Linked DNA regions of Homo sapiens: region 2 is linked to region 1. Evidence: fine-mapped expression QTL. Tissue or cell type: skeletal muscle. Region 1 holds a variant in brackets; the other region holds the start of a gene. All regions are shown on one strand. Distances are between the middles of the regions.

Region 1 (4,394 bases):
AGTGTTAGGATTAGTGGTACCATGTCCTTGAAGTTTTGCTTTATATATGTTTCCAAAGGAATAGCTTATTAAATAAAATCCAATTCAGTTTTAGATCATTGTGTTTCTGTTTCTTTAACTACCAGGCAAAGTGACAGTTTTCACTTGTGGAAAATACTGATCCTTATTCAATATTATATGTGCTTACCACAAGGAAATATCCCATGCTGTTCGCTGAAAATGCACAAAAATGTAAACTGATGGGCATGATACCTTATACTATGGTACTAGATGAATAAGAAAGTATCTTACTCGGGCTGGGCGCGGTGGCTCACACCTGTAATCCCAGCACTTTGGAAGGCCGAGGCGGGTGAATCACGAGGTCAGGAGTTCGAGACCAGCCTGGCCAATATGGTGAAACCCTGTCTCTAACAAAAATACAAAAATTAGTGGGGCTTGGTGGCAGGCGCCTGTAGTCCCAGCTATTTGGGAGACTGGGGCAGGAGAATTGCTTGAACACGGTAGGCGGAGGTTGCAGTGAGCTGAGATCGCCCCACTGCACTCCAGCCTGGGTGACACAGTGAGACTCTGCCTCAAAAAAAAAAAAAATCTTAGTCTGTTCACTGAAAATGCACTAAAATGTCATCTGATGGGTGTGACACCTTATACTATCATAGTACATGATTAAGTTAGAGCTAACTTTTGGCTACATACATATTTGAGTGAGAAGATGAAATTAAAACATCATTACAACAGAATAAATGAGAAGAGCATTCTAATCAGTGGTCAGACAGACTTAAGGAAGACAGCCAAGCCAAGGCCTCCATGCATCTGAGGTAGAGCCTTCCCTCCCCAGAAAGGCAAGCACTCCCTCTGGAAGTCTAAACTACTGCAGGTTGGATTAAATACTACTTAGTCACACCCACTCATCCAGCCCAGTGTTGCAGAGTCTCATTCAAACCTAGACTGGCCCTGAAGGACAGAGAGCCTTTGGATTTAGAGTTCACCTGTGTCATAGGATATACTCTCTGAGGAGTTCTGGAACAAGCCCTTTATCTCTTTCAGACACAGATCAGAATCCCCAAAATATCTTCCCTGCAAGGAAACAGCTAGAAAAGACTCTTCAATGATGGCCAAGGGTTCACCTCTTTCATGCTTTAGCTCTTAGCACTTGTAACAAAACATAACCTTGCAGCCTCTTGTAGGATCTATGAAAGGTACCTTACAGATGTGCACCACTGTCTCACTATAACATTCTACAAAACATTCTAAACATTTTTATACGAAAAAAACATTGAGAAGAGGCATGCTATGTAAATCACAGAAGAATGTTTTCAAGTTTTAAAATACACTTTGTTCTTCTCTAGTCTAAATGTTCATGGCTTTTAATTCTCATCATCAGATATTTTAAATAAAGCCTTAAGTTTTCTGTCACGTCATTCTAATAAAAAGGGAAGGTAGCATCCATCACACAGATTGTCCTCCCAAGGATGTAGCACATCTTATTTTAGCTAAAATCTGCCATATGCCTACATCCTCTCAAAACGACAGTAACATTTAGGAAAGGGAAGTTACATCCTATATTATCAGTGAGCAGCAGAGATTCAACAAATCCAATAAAAAATGCTTTAAATACATTTAAATGCTAAACTTAGTTCGCAAAAGCATATACAGGTTGAGTATCCCTTATTCCAAATGCTTGGGACCAGACAGCCTTCAGATTTCTGATTTTTTCAGATTTTTGCATTACACTTACCAGGTGAACATCACAAATCCAAAAATCGGAAATTCAAAATGCTCCAGTGAGCACTTCCTTTAAGTGTCACGTTGGTGCTCAAACAGTTTCAGATTATGGAGCATTTTGGATTTTGGATTTTTGGATTTGGGGATGCTCAACCTATATGCTGAGCAACTGCCACGGAACCCTATTTTAAGCCTGCTATCAGCATTGGCTAAAAAAATTAACAAAAGTTAAAGTATTCCACGTTGGCTATAAAGAGAAGGAAAAAGTAAAATAATGAAGACAATAATGATTAATACATATAACTAACAAAAAGCAATTATCAAGCACATTAACTAGGTACCAGATTCTGCACTAGGCACTCAAAGGGTTCTAGGAACAAGTCTATGGCTGGAAAAAAAAAAAATAGGATTCAGGGGCCTACACATAAGGTGTGAAACAATGATGTGTTTCTGGAAGAGAAGGATAGTG[C/CCACTCTGTAG]CACTCTGTAGCACTGTAGCCAACTGTGAAAAGAGGGAAGACAGAAGACTGGACAGTCTCTCTCCACACATGTGCCACACACAAAACCCAAGAACTTCTAATCCTAACTATGCCACCAGACTTGGCAGTGATGCTTCCTGAAGTTCAATCTTCTGCACATTGCTTTTATGATATTCACCTCACCTTGTACTATCCATTAGAGTATTAACATTTTTCATTTAGTCACTAAGTTGCATACAATTTTAAAGAAATTGGATATTGCTACTATAATATAAAATCAAAATCAATTTTGTCCTTTGAAGATGTCAACTCTCTGAGAAACTCCTCTAACTGTCCCATCTCCTAGGCCTCAGTGACTCCATCTGTGAGATGGGTAAAATGTTGAGACTATTTGTGAGGATAGATATTAACAGCTAATGAGGTAATTACTTCTGTGAGTTTATATAAAAATTAAAATATGCAGGTGAGCGCCATCATGAGTGAATTGGAAAGAAAATTTAAATTTAGTGATGGAAAGAACACTGGAGATCATCTACTCTTGTCCATATTGTGGTATGAATGACATATCGAGGATCCCTGGGATTCAGGGTAACAGCAGGAAGCTGACAGGAACTGCCTCATAAGACTATTCAAGGGACTTTCTCACCTCAACAGTTTACTCAAGCAAGAACATAGGGGAGGTTGGTATGAAGTTAAGAAGGCCAAATGCAAACCAAACCAACTCCTGAGTTGATAGGAATTCGGCCATGTGAGTGTCTCATCACCAGGTGATCCTAGAATCTTGAGGACCAGCTTTTATCTCCAGAATGTGCAACCTAGCAAGTTGGCTTCACTTCTAAGGCAGAAAGAAACCCAAGCCCCTTAAGGAATCACTAATTCAGTAGGCGCTGATCTTCTAGATATATCTCTGATCTTCTAGATATCTTCTAGATAATTACTAGCTCAATAGGCTCTGATCTAAATATATTGTTTTCATTTTTTCATTACAGAAGAAAATAGAAGTTATAGAAAAAACGTTTTTAAAAATCACCCATATCAGAGAAAACTACTGTTGATCTCTAAGCATTTTCCTATATACACACAAAAACGCCATATAAACATCCATTATACTGTTTTGTCATCTTCCCTGCAGATATACTTACATCTAACCAGCTACCCATCCAGGGAAGACTGTTGCTGAGGAAAGACTGATTTCTATCTGTACATGTATCCAGATATTTCAGTAAGATAAAGAGACTATGGATAGGCATAAACAATCTTGTCTCACTGGCATTAGCCATTCTACGTCTTTCCTTCTTCCATCTTTATAATCTTCTTTCTCTGAGACTTTACACTTTTTTGGTTCCACCTTCCATCCCTAGTCTATTTCTGTCTCACCATGTACAGTTGTTTCTTCTGTTCATTATTAATATATTTGCATTGTAGTTTCATATGATCTAGACATGAGTTAAAAAACAAATACGTTTGCCACAATTATACATTCAACATGGATTTGAGGAACTCTGACTAAAGGAAGAGTCAGCTAAATGAGCTAACTGAGCAGGCAGGGCAGTCAGCTGGAAGGACTCGCTGAGTAAGTGGCTCTATAAAGACAGGAAGGCAAGACCATAACTAAAGGTGGGAGTGGGGACCAGAGACCTGATGGGTAGCCAAGGACTGGGTCTCTTTAGGTCAGAGATGGTGTGCCTTATAAATCAGAGGACAAGGGCCACATTCTAGAAACACAGGTGGCAAGAGACCTACCTACAGATCTGATGAAAGGATGGGGACTTATTTCTAAGAATAAATCACAAAAGTTGGCAAGAGGCTTGGGGAGGCTACATGCTGATATGGAGGGCAGTATCAGATTTCACAAATTATTAAGGTAATGCACACACACACACACACACGGAGATCAAAATAACACTGTATCATTTGCGTTCTTTTATGTGCAACTCTCTTCCATTCCCCTACATACACACACCCTACAATCAGGACAAATGTTTTAGTGATCCCAATAAATATAAATGGATTAAATTCATCAGTTAAAAGAATTATATCTTGCTATATACTTTTTATAAGATTTATTTAAAACATAATCAAAAGGTTGAAAATAGAAAAATTACTCCATGCAAATGCTTATAAAAAAGAAAACACATGGTATTAATACTAGATAAAACTATTTTACAATTATACATTTATATAATTGTACATTTTGCATTCT
Region 2 (4,394 bases), 28 kb after region 1:
TAGTTAAGTGGAATATTTTAATAATTCATGTCTACAGTTCCCTTTAATAATTTCATTGATTTATTATGATACCAAGGGTATTTCATTTGGAGGTCTAAAATATCCCCTTCTTTGTGACTAAGAGGTAAATGCACATTTGAAGGGGTGATATGCCTTATGTTCTTCGAGCAATGTAATCTGCTGTGTGACATAAATTTTGGCTCTGATCTCACACTGAGGTTTTCACTCCATAGGCACCTGCTTGCAATTTAAATTGAAAGAATCAAAACTTGGTCTTGGATAAAGGAAAGATCCAATTTTCTGTCTGTGTCCTCAACGTAAAACAAAGATTCAATAGTAGTATACAGATTGCCAGAAACCACAGGCTAAAGAGATGTGGCAATTTCCTGAAAGATTTTATGTTTGGGGGGTGGGGGCGGGAGGGGGGCAGGTAGGGTGGAAAGGAGTTGTGGGAGGGGAGAGAGAGACAGAGAGAGAGAGAGAGAGAGAGGAGGGAGAGAGAGAGAGAGAGAGGAGAGAGAGGAGAGAGAGAGAGAGGGAGGGAGGGAGGGAGAGAGAGAGAGAGAGAAGAGAGAGAGGAGAGAGAGAGAGAGGGGGAGGGAGGGAGGGAGGGAGGGAGGGAGGGGGAGAGAGAGAGAGAGAGAGAGAGAGAGAGAGAGAGAGAGAGAGAGAGTCTGCAAGCCCACCATGATGGTCTCTCAAGCCCGCTCAGACATCTGCCCACCATCCACTGCAAGCCTCTTTCAAATGGTCACTTCCTATTATAAGGTTAAACTATAATCAACAAATCCCTTTCTTTCTCCTAACTCAAAACTGTAGTTTCCCATCTCCTTAAAGAAAAGGCACTATCCACCATTTGCTTTCTATTGTTAAAAGGGGCAATGCGTATCTTCTTTTCTTTATGGCACAATTATTAATATTACTCAGAAAGTCCTACCTTTACAAGTTATAATAAGTATCAACATTTATTTGAAATCATACTGTAAAATTTAAAAGGCATCCATATTTATGTTTTATTCTCACAATGACATCTCCAGGTCTTCAAACGGAAGACTACGACACAAATGGCCTGCCTTCACCGTGCTGCAATTTCTTCAACAGGTAACTTGCTTAGCCTGTGCTACGTATTCATACTGCACGTGGATGTCACTGAATGTCCTTTCTCTTCCAATACATATCTGTATCTAAAAGCACACGGTTTGCTTGCAGATTTTCTTCCTTCCCTTCTCCTCCCTATGGGAAGCTGCCCACTCCACCCCGAAAACACTGTCCCCCAAAGCAAGGGGACGCGCTGCACCCTCGGCTGTCACCGCGAGGGCTCGGCGCGCATGCGCGGCGCGAGCGGCCGGGCCCCACAGCCGCAGGTCGTTGGTAAGGCGGGTCCGCGGACCCCAGGTCGAGCCCAGCGGCAGTGCAGGATCGCAAGCGGCCCGGCACCGGCGCCGCAGGTTGTTGGCAAGCCTGGTCCGGGGTTTTAGGTTGAGCCCAAGCGGCAATGCGGGATCGCCACCGGGCCGCGCGGGCTTGGGAGGGTGACGCCCGCGAGGACACTGCGGCGTCCGGGGCGGGCGGGCACACTCACAATTTCAGCATCCACTCGCCCTCCATCACCAGCGTCCAGTTGGAGGCGGTCATGGGCTGGACCCGGCTCTGCTCCGGCGGCAGCGCGGCCTCCTCGGGGCCTGCCGTCGCCGCCACAGCCGCGATCCAGGCGGCCAGGAGCGCCGTTAGCTGCGGGCCGCAGCGCCCACCCGCCATGTTGGGCGCCGAGCGAGGCTTCTCGGCGGGGAGTGTGGGGAAGGGCAGCGGCCGGCCCGCAGCCTCGCTCGCCCGCCGGGTTTTTCAAGGAAGCGGGAGACGCAAGGGCCACCCCGCCTACGCCTAGCGGCGCAGACTGGCGGTGCTCGCAATGCCGCGGAGGACGCCACCTCTTATCGCCGCTTGCCCGTCGAGGCCACGCCCCCTCCCGCCTCCACTTGCCGTTGCCCGGGGTGTCGGTTACCTCAGCAACCACCGCCCTTTCTTCCTGACCGCCAAGCTGACAATAAACAGATGACCCAACGTTGCCTAAGTTAGAACATGCACCGCTGCTGCCCAGGCTCCAATAAGGGCAGGGTTGGCGCGTGTGGGCTTCTCTAAAGGGAAACATGGCCAGTAATTTTAAAATCCATCCCCTCTTCAATGATAGCAAATATAAAAGCAACGGGCTGCAAGGTACACGTATGTTTAATGAAAAATGGAGGGACGTGGTGAGTATCTCCTGCTGAAGAGAGAGGAAAATTTAAGTACTCTGCATGTGTATATTGAAGCATCACTAATTTAGGATATTGATGAAACTAGCCTATGCAATTGCATTTTTTTTACAAAAAATGTTAATTTCATAGAAACTCTTAAAAACATGGGTACTAGCCGATAAAATGAGTCAATTAAGACTATTGCCACCTGCAGTAAAATGGACCTCACATTTCTCTTGACTACAGTTTTGTCAGATCTAAAATGAGGGTAGCCTTAAGTGATTTCCAAATTTCTTTCCAGGTCACATTAGATGAATCTGTACCTTGGGACCACCACACCGTTAATATATAAGACTGGATTACAATTAAAGGATGAGGAAGCTTTCTCAAAGGGTGCTTTGTATGTGTTTACTAGTTGTGCAAACCATGAACCTCGGTAATGTGGTTAATAGACCATGAAAAGGATGTGGTTTCTGCCCTCGGCTTAAAACAAAGACAGCAATAAGACTAAAAGTACTTCAGGGCACATGAGAGCAAATTTCAATCAATACTTATAGGAGAGGGAAGTTAATTTTGCCTGAAGAGAAGATCTGGCCTGCATTATGCATTAATTAGTATTAGCTAAAAACTATGTGGACCTAGCCCTTATCATTAAAATAAAACACTCAAGGGTTTACAAACTATTGAAATTTAAGAAAATGTCTTTGCAATGAATGCTACTAAGACTCACTGTTATTAAGTACATACATATCAATTCCATAAACTCAATGGAAAACATTTTACTGTGCTTGTAAAAAGAAGTGACTCATAAACAGGAATTCTGTCATTTTATCACTTTCATGATAGAATGATGTGTAGAATTTGTTTTACAATGCTCCAGAAATAAAATGTAGGGAATGGAAAGAAGATAGGTGAAAGAAAAGTGGTGCAACATCAGTCAGTGTTGAAGCTAAGTTCATTTTGCTACTTTACCTACTCATGCATATGTTGGAAAATTTACAAAATGAAAAGCTAAAAGGAGAGAGAGCATCTTCAGCATGAAAGACAGCCATTACCAAAGCATTTCCTATCTTTAACAAAAACTGAAGTCTTAGCCTTCAGACTAAGGATGGTAGGAAGAAAGTAGCAAGGAAGTATGGGACTGACCTTGCCGTAAGGAGTCACAGACCAGGGTAAGGGACCTGTTGCTGTCAGACCATGATTGGCATCTTAGCCCTGACACTTCCTAGCCATGTGATTTGGGGCTAAAACTAGTCCACACCAAAGTTCTCTTAAAATGCGGGTAGTAATAGAACCTGCTCCAAAAGGTGGCTGTGAAGATTATATGAGATAAGAATAATGCCTAGCACATATTCTAACTCAAAAAGCTTACATATTAGGTTGGTGCAAACATAATTGTGGTTTTTGCCACAATATTGCCAACACTAATATTATTATTTGGAGGCAACAATACGCTGTAATGTCTATTTTTCTTATACTAAAGTTAACTTCACTTAGCATGATACACAATGCCTCTCACAGCCCAGCTTCAGTTTTGCCCACTTTACATTCCACTATTCCCAGAGTTCCCTGTGTCCTAGTAACACAAAGCTACTCCCCATTCCCAAAGCACATTGTGTACTTCAGTGTCTCCTTGCTCCTTCATTCTGATTAGAACACTCTTCTCCAGTTGTCCAGTGAATCATTCAGTCTCTGTCATGTAGTCCACACTGTACCTCTGATAGCTCATGCAGAATGAGCTGCTGTCTCTTCTCAGATCCAATTGCTCTTCTGTATAACTGATATGGTTTGGCTCTGTGTCCCCATCCAAATCACATTTTGTAGCTCCCCTAATTCCCACGTGTTGTGGGAGGGACCCCATGGGAGATAATTGAATCATGGGGGCGGGTCTTTCCCATGTTGTTCTCGTGATAGTGAATAAGTCTCATGAGATCTGATGGTTTTAAAAATGGTAATTTCCCTGCACAAGCTGTCTCTCTTTTGGCCTGCTGCCATCCGCGTAAGACATGACTTACTCCTCCGTGCCTTCCACCATGATTGTGAGGCTTCCCCAGCCATGAGGAACTGTGAGTTGAATAAACACTTTTTCCTGTATAAATTACCCCGTCTCGGGTATGTCTTTATCAGCAGCGTGAAAATGGACTAATACAATAACTTCAC

The links. PIP is the estimated chance that this variant, and not a neighbour inherited with it, causes the effect.
Region 2: TMX4 starts here. The variant in region 1 is the best candidate, but not a certain one, in a credible set for the expression of TMX4 in skeletal muscle (GTEx, PIP 0.55).

The regions. Positions count from the first base shown.
Region 1 is chr20:7,989,721-7,994,114 of GRCh38, forward strand. The region is part of intron 5 of TMX4 (thioredoxin related transmembrane protein 4); the gene reads right to left. Among named protein-coding and RNA genes, the nearest start is that of TMX4, 28 kb to the right of the region's middle. The variant C/CCACTCTGTAG (reference allele first, on the strand shown) is at 2,192.
Region 2 is chr20:8,017,856-8,022,249 of GRCh38, forward strand. TMX4 (thioredoxin related transmembrane protein 4) reads right to left here and starts at 1,906. Exons shown (of 8, transcript NM_021156.4): 1 at 1,583-1,906. The coding sequence starts at 1,758. TMX4-AS1 (TMX4 antisense RNA 1) reads left to right here and starts at 2,051. Exons shown (of 7, transcript NR_184034.1): 1 at 2,051-2,249; 2 at 2,536-3,406; 3 at 4,204-4,300. RefSeq lists silencers at 1,417-1,556, 1,667-1,906.